Homo sapiens: one gene and its partner. The protein of the gene in region 2 purifies or fractionates together with the protein of the main gene of each other region. This does not show direct contact. Each region holds a gene or a part of one and is shown on either strand. Other genes may lie near its edges.

Region 1 (7,024 bases), on a different chromosome or scaffold from region 2:
ACTTCACCTGGTACTCAACCAAACAGTAATGTGTTCCCACATGGGCAAGAAATGACTACATGGGACCTCAAGATGTTGGTCTTCAATAGGGCACCTTCCTTAGATTTCTAAGAGGAATTTTAATTACACTCCATTTTTATCTTAGGCACTGACCTTAGAACTGAATCCTGGAGAGAGCTGAGACTCTTCTGTGGCAGTACCATGGGACACATAGAAGTAGCCTATACCCTGGCTCTGGAAGTTGGGGACTGCCTCCTAGAAGGGCCCCTAAGACCTTAAGTTGGTGAGGGGAAGATTGAGGCGGGAGGGGGAGAAGCCTGGGCGGAAGCATGTCACTGGAGGTAGAAACAGCTCTGTGCACAGTCTGTAGGGCTAGTGAGATCAAGATACATTTAGGGAACTGGTGAGCAGAGGGCAGGGGAGATGGGGAGAACAGGCCAGGGATACTGCCAGAGGATAGACCTTGGTGAGCCTCATAACATGCTATCAAAAAGGGTGGAATTTATGTATGTATGTATTTTTTGAGACAGGTCTTGCTCTGCTGCCCAGGCTGGAGTGCAGTGGCTTGATCATAGCTCACCACAGCCTTGAATTACTGGGCTCATGCGATCAGGAGTGTGGAATTTATTCTCGGGGCAATAGTGAAGCTTTGGAAAACGTTCAAGCAGAGGAATAACAGAATCAGATATATATTTAAGAAAGTTCATCCTGAAGCATGTGAAAAGGTGCCCGACATCATTAGTCATTAGGGAAATACAAATCAAAACCACAATGAGAGCCAGGCGTGGTGGCTCATGCCTGTAATCTCGGCACTTTGGGAGGTCAAGGCAGGAGGATCACTTGAGGCCAGGAGTGCTAGACGGCCTGGGCAACATAACGAAACCCCATCTGTACAAAATGTATTTTAAAAAGAAAAAATAAAAACAAAAAACTACAATGAGATACCACTTCACACCAGAAAATAATGAGTGTTGGTGGAGATGTGGAGAAACTGGAACCCTCGCACACTGCTGGTGGAATGGAAAATGATACAGCTGCTTGGAAAAACCACCTGGTGGTTCCTGAAAAGGTTAAAGATAATTATGACTCAGCAATTCCACTCCTAGGTATATACCCAAGAGTCATGAAAATACCTGTCCCTGCAAAAACTTGTTCGGGAATGTTCGTAGCAACACTATTCATAATAGCCAAAAAGTAGGGCCAGGTGCAGTGGCTCACACCTGTAATCCCAGAACTTTGGGAGGAAGAGGTGGGCAGATCACCTGAGGTCAGGAGTTCGAGACCAGCCTGACCAACATGGTGAAACCCTGTCTCTACTAAAAATACAAAAAATTAGCCAGCGTGGTGGCACATGCCTGTAATCCCAGCTACTCTGGAGGCTGAGGCAGGAGAATCGCTTGAACCCCGGAGGTGGAGGTTGCAGTGGGCCGAGATCGTGCCATTGCACTCCAGCCTGCACAACAAGAGCGAAACTGTGTCTCAAAAATAAATAATAGAAATAGAAATATATATATATAGCCCTAAAGTAGAAACAACTCAAATGCCCATTAACCAATGTGGATTAAAAAAAAGGTGGCATACCCATAAAATGGACTATTATTTGGCAATTTTAAAAAATGAAATACTGATAGAAGCTATGACATGGATGAACCTCAGAAATATGTTAAGAAGCCAGTCACAAATAGACACATAGTATATGATCCCATTTATATGAACTATCCAGAACAGGCAAATCCACAGAGAGAGAAGGAAGATCAGTGGTGGCCAGAGGCTAAGAGGGAAGAGGGAATAGGGAGAATTGCTAATGGACTCAGGGTTTCTTTGGGTGATCAAAGTGTTTTAAAATTGATTACGGTGCTGGTGCATAACTGTAAATATACTAAAAGCCACTCAAGTGTACACTTTAAATGGCTGAACTGTATGCAAATTACATCTAAATTAAGCTGGTAACAACAACAAAGGTTCATCCCGCTGCAGTGTGCAGAATGGAGACAGGGCAGAGACCAGTGAAGAGGCTGCTGTACAAATGCAGCTGGAAAGGGCAGTGGCTGAAGAACGGAGAGGGGTTCACAGGATCAGACTACAAGGGGGCCAGAGGAGGAGACTACATCCTGAGGACGCCACAAATTATCCTGGGTACCTGGTAACTCTCCAGAGAGGAGAGTGGGAAACAAATGAGGTATCTGCAATTATCATCAAGCAGCAAACATGTATGTAAAATCTCCTACACATAAGACTAAGAGGAACACACAAAGTGTGCAGCCCTGTGCCCACATGTGTGGGGAGTGTCCAGGGTAAAATCACGCCCAGCTGCCTGCCACGGGCCTGTCCTGACTATCCATTCTTACTCTTAAACTCCAAAGAAAAGGCCTCATCATTCAGGACACACTCAAGATGTTGCAAGATCTGAGTGACTGAGAGTGGGCAGGAGGGTTAGAGAAACTAATAAGGCCAGTAACTCCGAGAAGTAAAAATCTTTAAAGCTGCCTTTCTGGGTTCTCTCTGTGTGTCTGTGAAAACTGTAAGGTTACTCGAGTGTGTATTTCTCTTGGTTACATCAAAGACCCAGTTTTGACTGCACACCACCTCCTTCCAGAATGGCTTCGCTGATCTGTAGCAGGAGACTGCTGAGTGCTGAAAGGCCGTGGAACAAATGGACCTGAGCTGCTGGTGTAAAACCAAAAGGAAAGTCTGTGAAGGAGCATATTCTAAACCCTGCAGAGGCATGCCAGCTGGGACGCTGACCACAAGACATCTTTGCCCCGTCAGTAGAAGCAGAGACTGTGCTGGGATGGGAATAAGCCCCTGTCTACACCTCATGCGCGCCCTCAGTTGTCTCCCTGGCGCCTCCTCCACCTGCAGTAGAAATTCATGCTGGCGAGCCCACTGCCGTCACAGCTTGGGAAGAGTAAACCGCCACTGAGATGCACCAACAAAGCCAGGAATTCTGGTAACAGCCCACTCAACTGCTAGACGGGAAAACTGAGGCCCAGGTCCATGGAGCAGAGCCAGGGGTTGGCATCCAGGTGTCCGATTCTCAGGCCCCCGCACTCCTCACTCTACCAACTCCCCAAACCCTGACCCTTCCTAAGAACCTGGCTCTCAGCTGTATGCTTCACAGGGAAAGAAAAGCTGAGAAATCTCAGATGTCTTAAGTCTCAACTGGCAGAGAAACCAGAACCATCTCTTTCCTAGAATCCTAATAAGAAGCTGAAATATATCATGGTTATATCCTCTAATCTCTCTAAAGGGAGGGAGAAAAAGCAAGGTTAATCAACAAAATATGGGACAATACAGTTTTTGTTGCAGCTCTCAAATCTTGCAGCCCTTTACTTCCTTTATTAATAACAGTGTTCTGCATTAATTCGTGCCACAGTGTAATCAACTATCAATGTGACCATTAGCTCCGCCACAAGTAAAGATCGACAGGATCCAGGCTGCACTGTGTGCACAACAGCCCAGGCAGGTGAAGAGTCGTGACATCGCAAAAAGGACCACGGTTTATTACCATCTCTAACGCCCATGTTCCAGCAAACCGAAGAAAAACACTGTTTCTTAAAACTGCAGAGGAATACAAAATTAAATACTACAAAACAAAAATCAGACAGGAAGACGAAACAATCTACCTCCTCCTAATGGTAAAATAATCTGAAAGGAGTTTAAAAATAAATGAACTAAAATTTTTATAACTATTATCTTTTCTGCCAATTTTGAAGATGTCTTCAGGTGCCACAACGTGGGGACAGAAAGAATAAATATCAATGTATAACTTCTAGAGTGATAATAAACAACAGGACCCCATCTCAGATGGATGGATTTTTTTTCCTACTGGAGCCAAAAAACAAGCTGAACTCTATGTACAACAGACAGACTATACAACTAGGAGCATTTAAAAATAATAAGACTCCTCTCTCTGCCTTCTTCCAAAGAATAGAATATATATTTAACAGCACAAAAGACGACACCACTTGAGCTTCCCCTTTAGCCAACAGGAAGAATTTCCACATATAAAAATTAAAAATTTAAACTTTCAAATCATTCATGTTTTAAACATAATACAGACTTAAAAATTCTTCAACATTGACCCATAATCCCACCCCAGCACAAAAATCAACCCCAAATCCAGACGTCACAGTTTTTTGTTCCTAAAAATCCCACAGCACTGAACTTGATCTTCACATCAAGCTGACAGCACGTAAGAGGCCCATGCCATGAGCAATCCCCGAGGGAAGAACGGAAGCACAGTCAATGCTGCAGCTCTTATCTACCTGGGCGGCACTGGTGCACCTCTGAGGTCAGGTCCGTGAGATTCGCCCCACACTAGGGTCCCGGAAGGGTGAGCTGGCCGCTTCCCTCCTCTTCCCCCTCGAAGGATGTCCAATAAGCACCTGGGAATTGACTTTTCTTGGGAAAAGGGTGCTGGTAACAGCTGTCAGGGCCAAGGCAATAGTGAGAAGTTCAGTTCTCTGCTCTTTGGATGAACTGTGTAAAACATTTCTTTTAAAAGACACAATGTTAAAAATATTAAGAAAAATGTCTACAAAATCTGGAGGGCTGCCTTTTTCTCAAAGGGTAAAGCCTGTGGGGTGGTGGGAAAGGAATCGAGGGCCCAGAACTACAACTCTGCAGCGAAAGATAGAGATGCCCTTGAAAATGTGTCACATTCTTAAGATGTCTTGCCGAAGTAGCAAGAGCGGAGGGTGACTGTGTGAGCAGGAGCGAGAGGGCGCCAGCTCCTGCGGGGGAGGTTCCTACTGCGCGCCCCACCCTGTGCAAGAATGTCAGGCTTTAGGGCAGCTGCCATAGGCCCCAGGGGCATCAGGACTCTGCCTCTGAACCAGAGCTGCTTTCCCGACTAACTTCAATCTGGAGAGATGGTAAGTTATCTAACCGGCTCTTCTTTTGGCGAGACTGCTCTTTCTCCTTAATCAGAGCCCCCCATGCCCTTTGCAGCTCAGAGTCGTCTTCCTCAGCGCCAGGCGCCCTGTGATCCACTTTCTTCGTATTCTTTTCTTTGGTCTTGGGTGCAGATCCTAGGCGAGTCCATAAATTACCTGTTTGGATGAGATGGCATTTCACTTTCGCAGTCAGCGCTAAGAACCAGGGTAGCACTGAGGGGGCAGCAGCACTGCCAACACCTGCTGTGCAGGAAACGCCAGCAGTCTGTGGAGCCTGCCACCACAGTGCAGCCTTGGGCAGGCAAAATCTCATTTCCCGGGCCGCAGCCCCTGCCCGCAAACGGAAGGGTCTGGACCCAGCACGGGATTCTCACCGTGGGGGGACAGGTCAGGTCCCTCCCTGTCACCAGACACATCAGAATCACCTGAGAGGCCGTTTCCTCCTACTCCTGCCCTTCCCTGCTGAGACACCACCCTGTGTGCCAATCCATTCTGCCAGAAGTAGGCCACTCCCAGATCCCTTCCATTAATTTTTGAAATATATTTTATGAAAATTTAACAATAGAGAAATACGTGTTTAGAATTTTGTAGACGGCCACATTATAAGGCAATTCAAAGTTGTTTTTGTTTTTGTTTTTGAGACAAGGTCTTGCTGTTGCCCAGGCTGAAGTGCAGTGGTGCAGGCGCCCACCACCACGCCCGGCTCATTTTTGTGTTTTTAGTAGAGACAGGGTTTCACCATGTTGGTTAGGCTGGTCTCGAACTCCTGACCTCAAGTGATCCCCCCGTCTCGGCCTCCCAAATTGCTGGGATTACAGGTGTTGAGCCGCTATGCCTGGCCTAAAAGTTTTATTTATAAAGATTATAAAATGTGGCAAACAACTACGATAAAATGCTGTATGAAAAAACTAGGATTTGTATGTGGGCAAAGACCAGAATAGCTCACATGAAACTAAAAAGATTTGTGCCAAACAGAAAGAGCCAGGAGTGTGCTATTTTTTTCTATTTTCTAAGCGTTCCTAACTGTTGGGATGATGCTGATGCTGATGCTGACGATAACTATAATGGAAAAGGAATAATCACTTATATTTGGCGTGGGCTGTTTCTTGCCTTCTGCTAAGAAAGTATTTCTCCAATACACCCACTGTCCTCTGCTCTCACTGAATCCCCATTCCCATCCGTTTTAAGTGTTACCAACCTGATTTCTTCTCCCGAGTATCGGCGTAGAGGCCTTTACTATCCTGCCTGGGAACACCTAGCCTACTATGCACATCAGAAGAGGGCTCTCTCCGAACGACGGGGTTACTACTAAAAGCCTTTTCCGGAGAATGTGGTCTTTTTCCTAACCGCTGGCGTATATCTGAAAAAAGAGAAAAAGTGCACCAGTGACCGTGTGTGTGCTTTATGCTCGGCACCAGCCGCCTGACACCTCTAACGGATCTGGCGCTAACCCCTGCCCCGAGGACACAGGGCCTGACAATCAGGCTGCTAAGTATTCTTCCTTTGTAATCAGTCTGGATTTCCTTAGGAAAATTCGGACATAGGGGCTGTCAGAGGAAAAATCCTCAACTGATTACTCCAGAACTATATTTCTGAAGAAACAACCTTTTTTTTTTTTTCTTTAAGCAGAATCAAGAAGACTAAGTAATTTACAAAAGTTTCAGCGAACAAAAAATCCTGTGAGCTCCTGGAAAGTGGAAGGCACAATCTTTGAACATACAAGTAGTTCCCAATAAACTTATTACATTTAACCAGTAAATATAAAGAGACTGGAAAAGGCAAAGGATCAAATGTGTTTTTCCCTCAATCCCCCCAGAAATCGGCCTGTCCTCTTGAGTTCCCCCTAACCACCACAGCAACAACAGAAACACATTCGTTGGTGAGGCCCTGTGCCGAGGTCTCCTCTCACTTTAGCTTCTCTCAGAGAGCAGCACCCTGGTCTCTGGTCACTGAGACCTGAGCTCCTTTCCTCCAACACTTCCTAGCACTGAGTCTTCCTTCACAAGACTATCCTGTTCTTTATCCATTCTGTCTCCACCGACCTAGTTCAGGCTCTTGTTACTTTTTTAACTCTCTACCCCACCCCACTCCACCCTCAAGTTGTCTTTCTAAAATAGATGTAAGAT
Region 2 (7,905 bases):
TCCCCCTGCCCTGAACTGCCCATCAGTAACTGAGTCCCTCTCAACAGCCCTGCCCTGAGCCAGGTACCTCCTCTCCCACTAGGGTTCCAGCCCCAGCTTCCTCCTTGGTCTCTGGGCTCCAGTATCACCTCCTCGCACCCACCACCGCACAGCACCCAGAGGCGTCTTCCTAAAGAGCTGTTCTGACCGGTCCCACCCCTGCTCAAGGCTCTCCCTGGCTCCCCAGTGCCCTCAGGACAAAGTCCAAACTCATCCTGGTGGCATTCAGGGCCTAGCACAGCCTGGCCCCTGCTGACCTGCCCAGGTCAATTCTCTCCTAACCAACCCTCCAACTTGAAGCTCCAAGCTCTCTCTTGCTTCCAACATTTGCACAAACTGTTCTTTCTGCCTGAAACATGTTCCCCTCGCCTTTTCAACTGGCTATTGTCTACTCACCACTCAAGCCTCAGAGTCCACTCCTCCAGGAAGCCCTCCCTGATATCCCCAAGGCTGGGTCAAGAGCCTCCTCTGGACTCCCACAGACCCCTGAATTTCCTGATTCCAGACTTGTCTGCTCTGGGGCATCCCTGAGGACAGGGCTGTCTCCCTGACTAGACGGTGGACCCTGGAGGGGGCAGGCCTGGGTCTGTCTCAGTCACAGCTATATCCCCAGCACCACTCAGCACTGGGGCTGGTAAAGATCTTGGGGAATATTTGTGAACAAATGAATGAATGAATGAATAATGGAATGAAAGAAGGGATGTCAGGCTAAGGCCTTTGGCCTTTATCCTGACAGTGATGGGGAGCCATGAAAAGGTTTTAAGGAAGGGAGAGGTGAGAAAAACTCACTGCGGGGAAGAGAGGGGATGGGGTCTCCCAGGGCGGGGCTAGGGCACCTGGTAGCGCCGGATGAGGGCCTCATTCTTCCGCCGAAGAGCCTCGATCCTCTTGTCCAACTCAGCATCCTTCTCCTCCTTTGATTTCAAATCGAGTGTGGCTGCCTGAGACCGGGAGGCAGTTGAGGGATGGAAGGAAAAACCTCCATCCATACCAGGGACTTTCCCCCAGGGTCTGAGAGTCTGCCCCTATGGATCCCATCCTCCCAAGCCCCCTTCCCCAAAACTCAGATTCTAGAGACCCCATTTTTCAGCCTCACCATTTCGCTGGCTGCGTGGAGCCAAGGTCCCAGCAAACCTCCCCTGCAGAATCTAGACGCAGCACTGAGGGTTCCTGGGGACAGAGGGAAAAAAAGGACAAAGGCCAATGGCCCCCCAACCTACTTCACCCTCTAACATACTGCGGGATCCTCACAGCCATACACAAAAAACCCTGTACCCCAAGAGAATTGTAGCCCTCACTCTCCCTCCTTTCAACTGCCACCTCCATCTTCTCCATAGAAATTCAGACTCAGCCCTTTCATGATCTTTGTGGACTCACCCAGTTCCCATGTAAACGATCTAGTCAAACCCACCTTGGGGATGTTCTGGCCCCCACCCACTGCTTAAGTATCCAACACTGCTCTCCTCCAAAGGCTGATTCTAGGCCAGCCGCCACACCCTGTGGTATGAGTGTTAGCCCGGGTTCCCTATCTCAAGAGAGTTCCAACTACAACCCCTCCAACCAGCCTGCAAAAGAAAGTTCCAGACCCACCTCCCTGTGCTCATCCTGGTGCCTCTCATATCCAGGCGAATATTCTAGCTCCACCAGGTAAGGTTCAGAAACATTCCCAATCCCACGCTCAAAGAAAGTCCGAACCCCACTCTTATTGGCTGCCCAAGCTCTCAGAGAACATTCCAAGCCCGCGCCTTCCTCAGGGACGTCCTAGTCCCGTCTCCAGCGCCCTACGGAAGGTCGACAGCCTCCCGCCTCCCCCGAAAGGATTCTGTACACAGGCCCAGAACTCACTGGCGAGGCTTCCTGGAACTGGCGTTTTGCCCCACTGAATACTCCACCCGCCCCAACAAGGACAAAACTACCCAGGCCCGCCCCAGATTTTCTGTGCAAAGCTCCAGCCTCAATCCGGCTGGGAATGCCAGGGCCACGTCCCCGACATCCTGGAAACCGCTCTGGCCCCGCCCACGGCTCGGGAAAAAACTTTCTGGCCCCGCCTTTCCCGCCAGACTTCTGGCCCCGCCCCCACCCATGGGCCATTAATGTGGCCCCGCTCCCGACTTTCCCAGCCACGCTCTTTCCCCGCCTCCTGGCTCGCAGGCAACAGCCTACACCCGCCCCTACCATCTCTTATTATTATTCCAGCCCCGCCCCCGGCCTGCCCAGTCAACCCTCTGGCCCCGCCTCCGATTGGCCTGGCCAACCTCCTGGACACGCCCCCTGACTCCCTCCCACACCTCGTTGCGTCAGCATCTGGCCCCGCCCATGGCTTCCCCAGGGTTCTGGCTCAACTCCCCGCTTCCCCGCCTCCCGGCCAACGCTCTGGCCGCGCCCGTGGCTCAGACGAAACTTTCTGGCTCCACCCCCAGCATTCCCCGCCAGCACCCTGGCCCCGCCCCCTGGCTCCCCCACTACATTGTGGCCCCGCCCCCGCCATTGCGTCAGCCTCTGGGTCCGCCCCCAACGTCCCGGCCAAGAATCTGGACCCACTTCCAGTAAGGCAAAACTTTCTGGCCCCGCCCACAGAGCTTCCGCCCGGCGTCCGAGCCCCGCCACACAGCTGAACAAGCAACACTATGGCCCCGCCCACAGTCCAGCCACAACTTTTAGGTCCCGCCCACAGCCGCCGGCCCAGGCTCTGGCCACGCCCCGCCCCGACCCTGCCCACCCACCCAACGGCCCGCCCCGCCAGCGCCCCTCCAGCTTCCCATGTGGGCGTCCTGTCCCCGCCCCCCGCAGAGAACTCCGACCCCGCCCGGGCCTGTTCGCACTCCCCGCCACGTGGGGCTTCAGGCCCCGCCTTCTCTGGGCGCGCTCCCGGCCCCCTCCCCCAGGTCACCTGTCCCGGAGACCCCGCGGCGTCCGCGACTCCGGCTCCGTCGGCCTCTGCGACCGCAGCTCCCGGGCCAGGCGCGTCACTTCCTGCCTGCACCACGTGAGGAAGGGAAATAAAGAGGGTCACTTCCGGTCCTGTGGGACCGTTTCCGGGAGCCTTAAAGGGGCCGCGCCTCCGCGATGGATGCGGGAGCGGGGCCGACTGGCCCCCCGGGTGTTCCGCAAGCTCATCCAACTTCCTTCTGCCTGAATTACCAACTTCCAGGAAAAGGAGACACCGTCCTCACTCCCTGGCCTCTACCTCTTTCTTCAAGCTGTTTCCGCCTCCAGCCCCTCATTCCTGGTTTCTATCAGTAGATGCCAAGCACTGGGCACTGACGCCTGGAAGCCTGGCGTGGTTCGAGCCCCCTCGTGCCAATGAAACCTTAGAGTTCGCTTTAGAAGCTTCAGATGTTCTACCGGCCGTGGGCGGTGGCTCACACTTGTAATCCCAGCACCTTGGGAGGCCGAGGCGGGCGGATCACCTGAGGTCAGAAGTTCGAGATCAGTCTGGCCAACATTGTGAAATCCCGTCTCTACAAAAAAAATTAGCCGGTTGTGGTGGCGCGCGCCTGTAATCCCAGCAACTCGGGAGGCTGAAGCAGGAGAATCGCTTGAACCGGGGAGGCAGAGGTTGCAGTGAGCCGAGATCATGCCACCGCACTGCAGCCTAGACGACAGAGCAGACCCCTTCTCGAAAATAAAATAAAATGCTGGGCGCAGTGGCTCACGCTTGTAATCCCAGCACTTTGGGAGGCCGAGGAGGGCGGATCACTTGAGGCCAGGAATTCGAGACCATCCTTGCCAACATGGTGAAACCCCGTCTCTACTAAAAATACAAAAAAAATCAGCCCGGCGTGGTGGCGGGCGCCTGTAGTCCGAGCTACTCCGGAGACTGAGCCAGGAGAATGGCGTGAACCCCGGGGGCGGAGCTTGCAGTGAGCCGAGATCGCTCCACTGCACTCTAGCCTGGGCGACACAGGGAGACTCCGTCTCAAAAAATATACATATACAAAAATTAGCCAGGCATGGTGGCGGGCGCCTGTAATCCCAGCTACTTGGGAGGCTGAGGCAGGAGCATCGCTTGAACCCGGGAGGCAGAGGTTGCAGTAAGCCGAGATTGCACCACTGCACTGCAGCCTGGGCGACAGAACGAGAGACTCCGTCTCAAAATAAAATAGGCCGGGCGCCGTGGCTCACGCCTGTAATCCCAGCACTTTGGGAGTCCGAGGCGGGTGGATCACCCGAGGTCAGGAGTTTGAGACCAGCCTGACCAACGTGGTGAAACCCTGTCTCTACTAAAAAATACAAAAATTAGCCAGGCATGGTGGCGGGCACCTGTAACACCTGTAATCCCAGCTACAGGCTGAAGCAGGAGAATCGCTTAAACCCGGGAGGCAGAGGTTGCAGTGAGCTGAGATCGTGCCATTGCACTCCAGCCTGGGCGACAGAGCAAGACTACGTCTCAAAAAAATAAATAACTGGCCAGGCGCAGTGGCTCATGCCTGTAATCCCAGCACTTTGGGAGGCCGAGGCAGGTGGATCACAAGGTCAGGAGTTCGAGACCAGCCTGGCTAACATGGTGAAACCCCGTCTTTACTAAAAATACAAAATTTAGCCAAGCATGGTGGCAGATGCCTGTAATCCCAGCTACTTGGGAGGCTGAGATAGAGAATTGCTTGAACCCGGGAGGCAGAGGTTGCAGTGAGGCAAGATCGTGCCACTGCACTCCAGCCTGGGCGACAAAGTGAGACTCCGTATCGAAAATAAATAAGTAAATGAAATCATAAAATATAAAATAAGGCCGGGCGCGGTGGCTCACGCCTGTAATCCCAGCACTTTGGGAGGCCGAGGCGGGCGGATCACGAGGTCAGGAGATCGAGACCATCCCGGCTAAAACGGTGAAACCCCGTCTCTACTAAAAATACAAAAAATTAGCCGGGCGTAGTGGCGGGCGCCTGTAGTCCCAGCTACTTGGGAGGCTGAGGCAGGAGAATGGCGTGAACCCGGGAGGCGGAGCTTGCAGTGAGCCGAGATCACGCCACTGCACTCCAGCCTGGGCGACAGAGCGAGACTCCGTCTCAAAAAAAAAAAAAAAAAAAAAGTATATATATATATATATATATATATATATATATATATATATATATATAAAATAAACGTTCAACCGATAGAATCAGTCGTTCATTCTCCCAAATCAGCATTGACTGCCAGGCTGCGTGCTGGGAGGAAAAGTTGGTGGGGGAACTGAGATGATGAACAAAGCTGACCCCATCCTTGTCCTCCTAAGGGAAGACACAAGTAAATGGGAAATAGCAGCACCTGTGGGAGATGCCTGGCAAGAGGGGCAGGAGAGGCCGGAGGGTGAGAGGCTGCCTGTGCAGGCCAAGGACACAACCTATGCAAAGGCCCTGTGGTGAATGAGCTTGGTGCATTCCCAAAACTAGAAGATACTCAAAGCAACAGCAGCTGAATAGCTGCAGAGTCCAGGAGGTTACAGCATTAACCAAAACTTAGACATAATAAAGCTAGTGTGACAAGCCGACCAGGCGCTGTGGCTCACGCCTGTAACCCCTGCTACTGGGGAGGCTGAGGCAGGAGAATCACTTGAACCTGGGAAATGGAGGTTGCAGTGAGCCAAGATTGAGCCACTGCACTCCAGCCTGGGCAACAAGAGTGAAACTCTGTCTCAGAATAAATAAATAAATAATAAAGGTATTGTGACAAATGATGATGAATGCTACAGAATACCCTCAGTTAAGGTGAATGACAGTTATAAGTGGACAGACCAGATTGCCTGTAGTGCCAGTCATTTTATTTTGTGATTTAAGACATAGAAAGTGGAAGTACCTGGTAATTCCTTACCATTTCTAAGGCTACTGTTCACAGCCTTTCAGAGATACCAATGAAACTTAATCCTCTTATAATTGTCCAAATAGCAATCTATGCATGTAACGAAATTCACTTGAGGCCAGTGCGGTGACTCATGCCTGTAATCCCAGAACTTTGGGAGGCCAAGGTGGGCAGATCACTTCAGCTCGGGAATTTGAAACCAGTCTGGGCAATAGAGTGAGACCTAGTCTCCACAAAAAAAATTAAAAATTAGGCCAAATACAGTGGCTCATGCCTGTAATTCCAACACTTTGGGAGGCAGAGGTGGGAGGATCATTTAAGGCCAGGAGCTCACTCAAGGTCAGCCTGGCCAACATAGTGGGACCCCCACCTCTCTCTCTCTCCATATATGTGTGTGTATGTGTTTGTATAAATATATATATATATTTTGTTTGTTTGTTTGTTTTTCTAAGACAGGTTTTGCTCTTTTTGCCCAGGCTGGAGTGCGATGGCGCAATCTCGCCTCACTGCAACCTCCGCCTCCCAGGTTGAAGCAATTCGCTGCCTCAGCCTCCTGAGTAGCTGGGATTACAGGCATCTGCCACCATGTCTGGCTACTTTTTTTTGTATTTTTAGTAGAGACAGGGTTTCACCGTTTTGACCAGGCTGGTCTTGAACTCCTGACCTCGTGATCCACCTGCCTCGGCCTTCCAAAGTGCTGGGATTACAGGCGTGAGCTACCGCGCCCTGCCGACTGTTTTCAACACATGAACTTCGACGGACACATTCAAACTATGGCAACTGTTCTGACAGAAAGAGGCTGCCCAGAGCACCCTGGGGAGAGCTGACTTGATGGAGCCTGAGTGGTGTGTGTGTCACCGCTGCTGCCCTCTCCAGCCACATCACTCCCTTTTGTGCATCCTCAAACTCCGTGTTCTTATCCAGTGGTTCTCAATGGAGGTAATTTTGCCCCCTAAAGGACATTTCTCAATGACTAGGGACATTTCTGGTTGTCACAAGAGAGGGTCCTCTTGACATCTAGTGGACAGAGGCCAGGGCTGCTCCTGAACACCTTCCAATGCCCAGGCCAGTCCCCAAGATAAAGACTCAGCCTCGGCTGGGCGTGGTGGCTCATGTCTGTAATCCCAGGACTTTGGGAGGCCAAGGCAGGAGGATCATCTGAGGTCAGGAGTTCGAGACCAGCCTGGCCAACATGGTGAAATCCCGTCTCTACTAAAACTACACACATGCAAAAAGAAATTAGCCAGGTGTGGTGGTGTGCACCTGTAATCCCAGCTACTTGGGAGGCTGAAGCAGGAGAGTCGTTTAAACCCGGGAGGCGGAGGCTTCAGTGAGCCGAGATCGCGTCATTGCAATCCAGCCTGAGGGACAGAGCAAGACTCCACCTCAAAAAAAAAAAAATTATCCAAGAGTGTCAGTGCACGCCTGTAGTCCCAGCTACTCAGGAGGCTGAGGCAGAAGAATTGCTTGAATTTGGGAGGCAGAGGTTGCAGTGAGCTGAGATCCCGCCACTGCACTTTAGCCTGGGTGACAGAGCGACACACTGTCTCAAAAAAATAAGTACACACACACACACACAAAATTAGCCAGGCGTGGCCAGGCACGGTGGCTCACACCTGTAATCACGGCACTTTGGGAGGCTGAGGTGGGTGGATCACCTGAGGTCAGGAGTTCATGACCAGCCTGGCCAACATGGTGAAACCCCATCTCTGCTAAAAATGTAAAAAAAATTAGCCGGGCATGGTGGCGGGCACCTGTAGTCCCAGCTACCAGGGAGGCTGAGGCAGGAAAATGGCGTGAACCCAGGAGGTGGAGCTTGCAGTGAGCTGAAATCACGCCACTGCACTCCAGCCTGGGCAACAGAGCCAGACTCCGTCTCAAGAAAAAAAAAAAAAAGAAAAATCTATCCGGGCGTCATGGTGGACGCCTGTAGTCCCAGCTGCTTGGGAGGCTGAGGCAGGAGAATTGCTTGAACCCAGGAGACGGAGGTTGCAGTGAGCCAACACAGTGCTACTGCACTCCAGCCTCGACGACAGAGTGAGACTGTCTCAAAAACAAAAAACAAAAAACAAAAAAAAATTAGCCGGG

What was found.
Region 1: the proteins of CCDC9 (region 2) and NCBP3 purify together in Homo sapiens (co-immunoprecipitation; 2 studies listed by BioGRID and IntAct, with this or other methods). This does not show direct contact.

What each region holds. Positions count from the first base shown.
Region 1 is NC_000017.11:3,808,226-3,815,249, forward strand, and holds part of NCBP3 (nuclear cap-binding protein subunit 3), read right to left. Parts: intron 6,259-7,024; coding exon 6,097-6,258; intron 5,055-6,096; coding exon 4,819-5,054; 3' UTR 4,430-4,818; coding exon of another isoform or gene 4,321-4,429; 3' UTR 1-4,320. UniProt on the Homo sapiens protein: Associates with NCBP1/CBP80 to form an alternative cap-binding complex (CBC) which plays a key role in mRNA export. NCBP3 serves as adapter protein linking the capped RNAs (m7GpppG-capped RNA) to NCBP1/CBP80.
Region 2 is NC_000019.10:47,251,634-47,259,538, reverse strand, and holds the start of CCDC9 (coiled-coil domain-containing protein 9), read right to left. Parts: upstream 3,015-7,905; 5' UTR 2,930-3,014; intron 2,043-2,929; exon of another isoform or gene 1,630-2,042; intron 1,210-1,629; 5' UTR 1,139-1,209; coding exon 1,136-1,138; intron 981-1,135; coding exon 876-980; exon of another isoform or gene 829-875; intron 1-828. UniProt on the Homo sapiens protein: Probable component of the exon junction complex (EJC), a multiprotein complex that associates immediately upstream of the exon-exon junction on mRNAs and serves as a positional landmark for the intron exon structure of genes and directs post-transcriptional processes in the cytoplasm such as mRNA export, nonsense-mediated mRNA decay (NMD) or translation.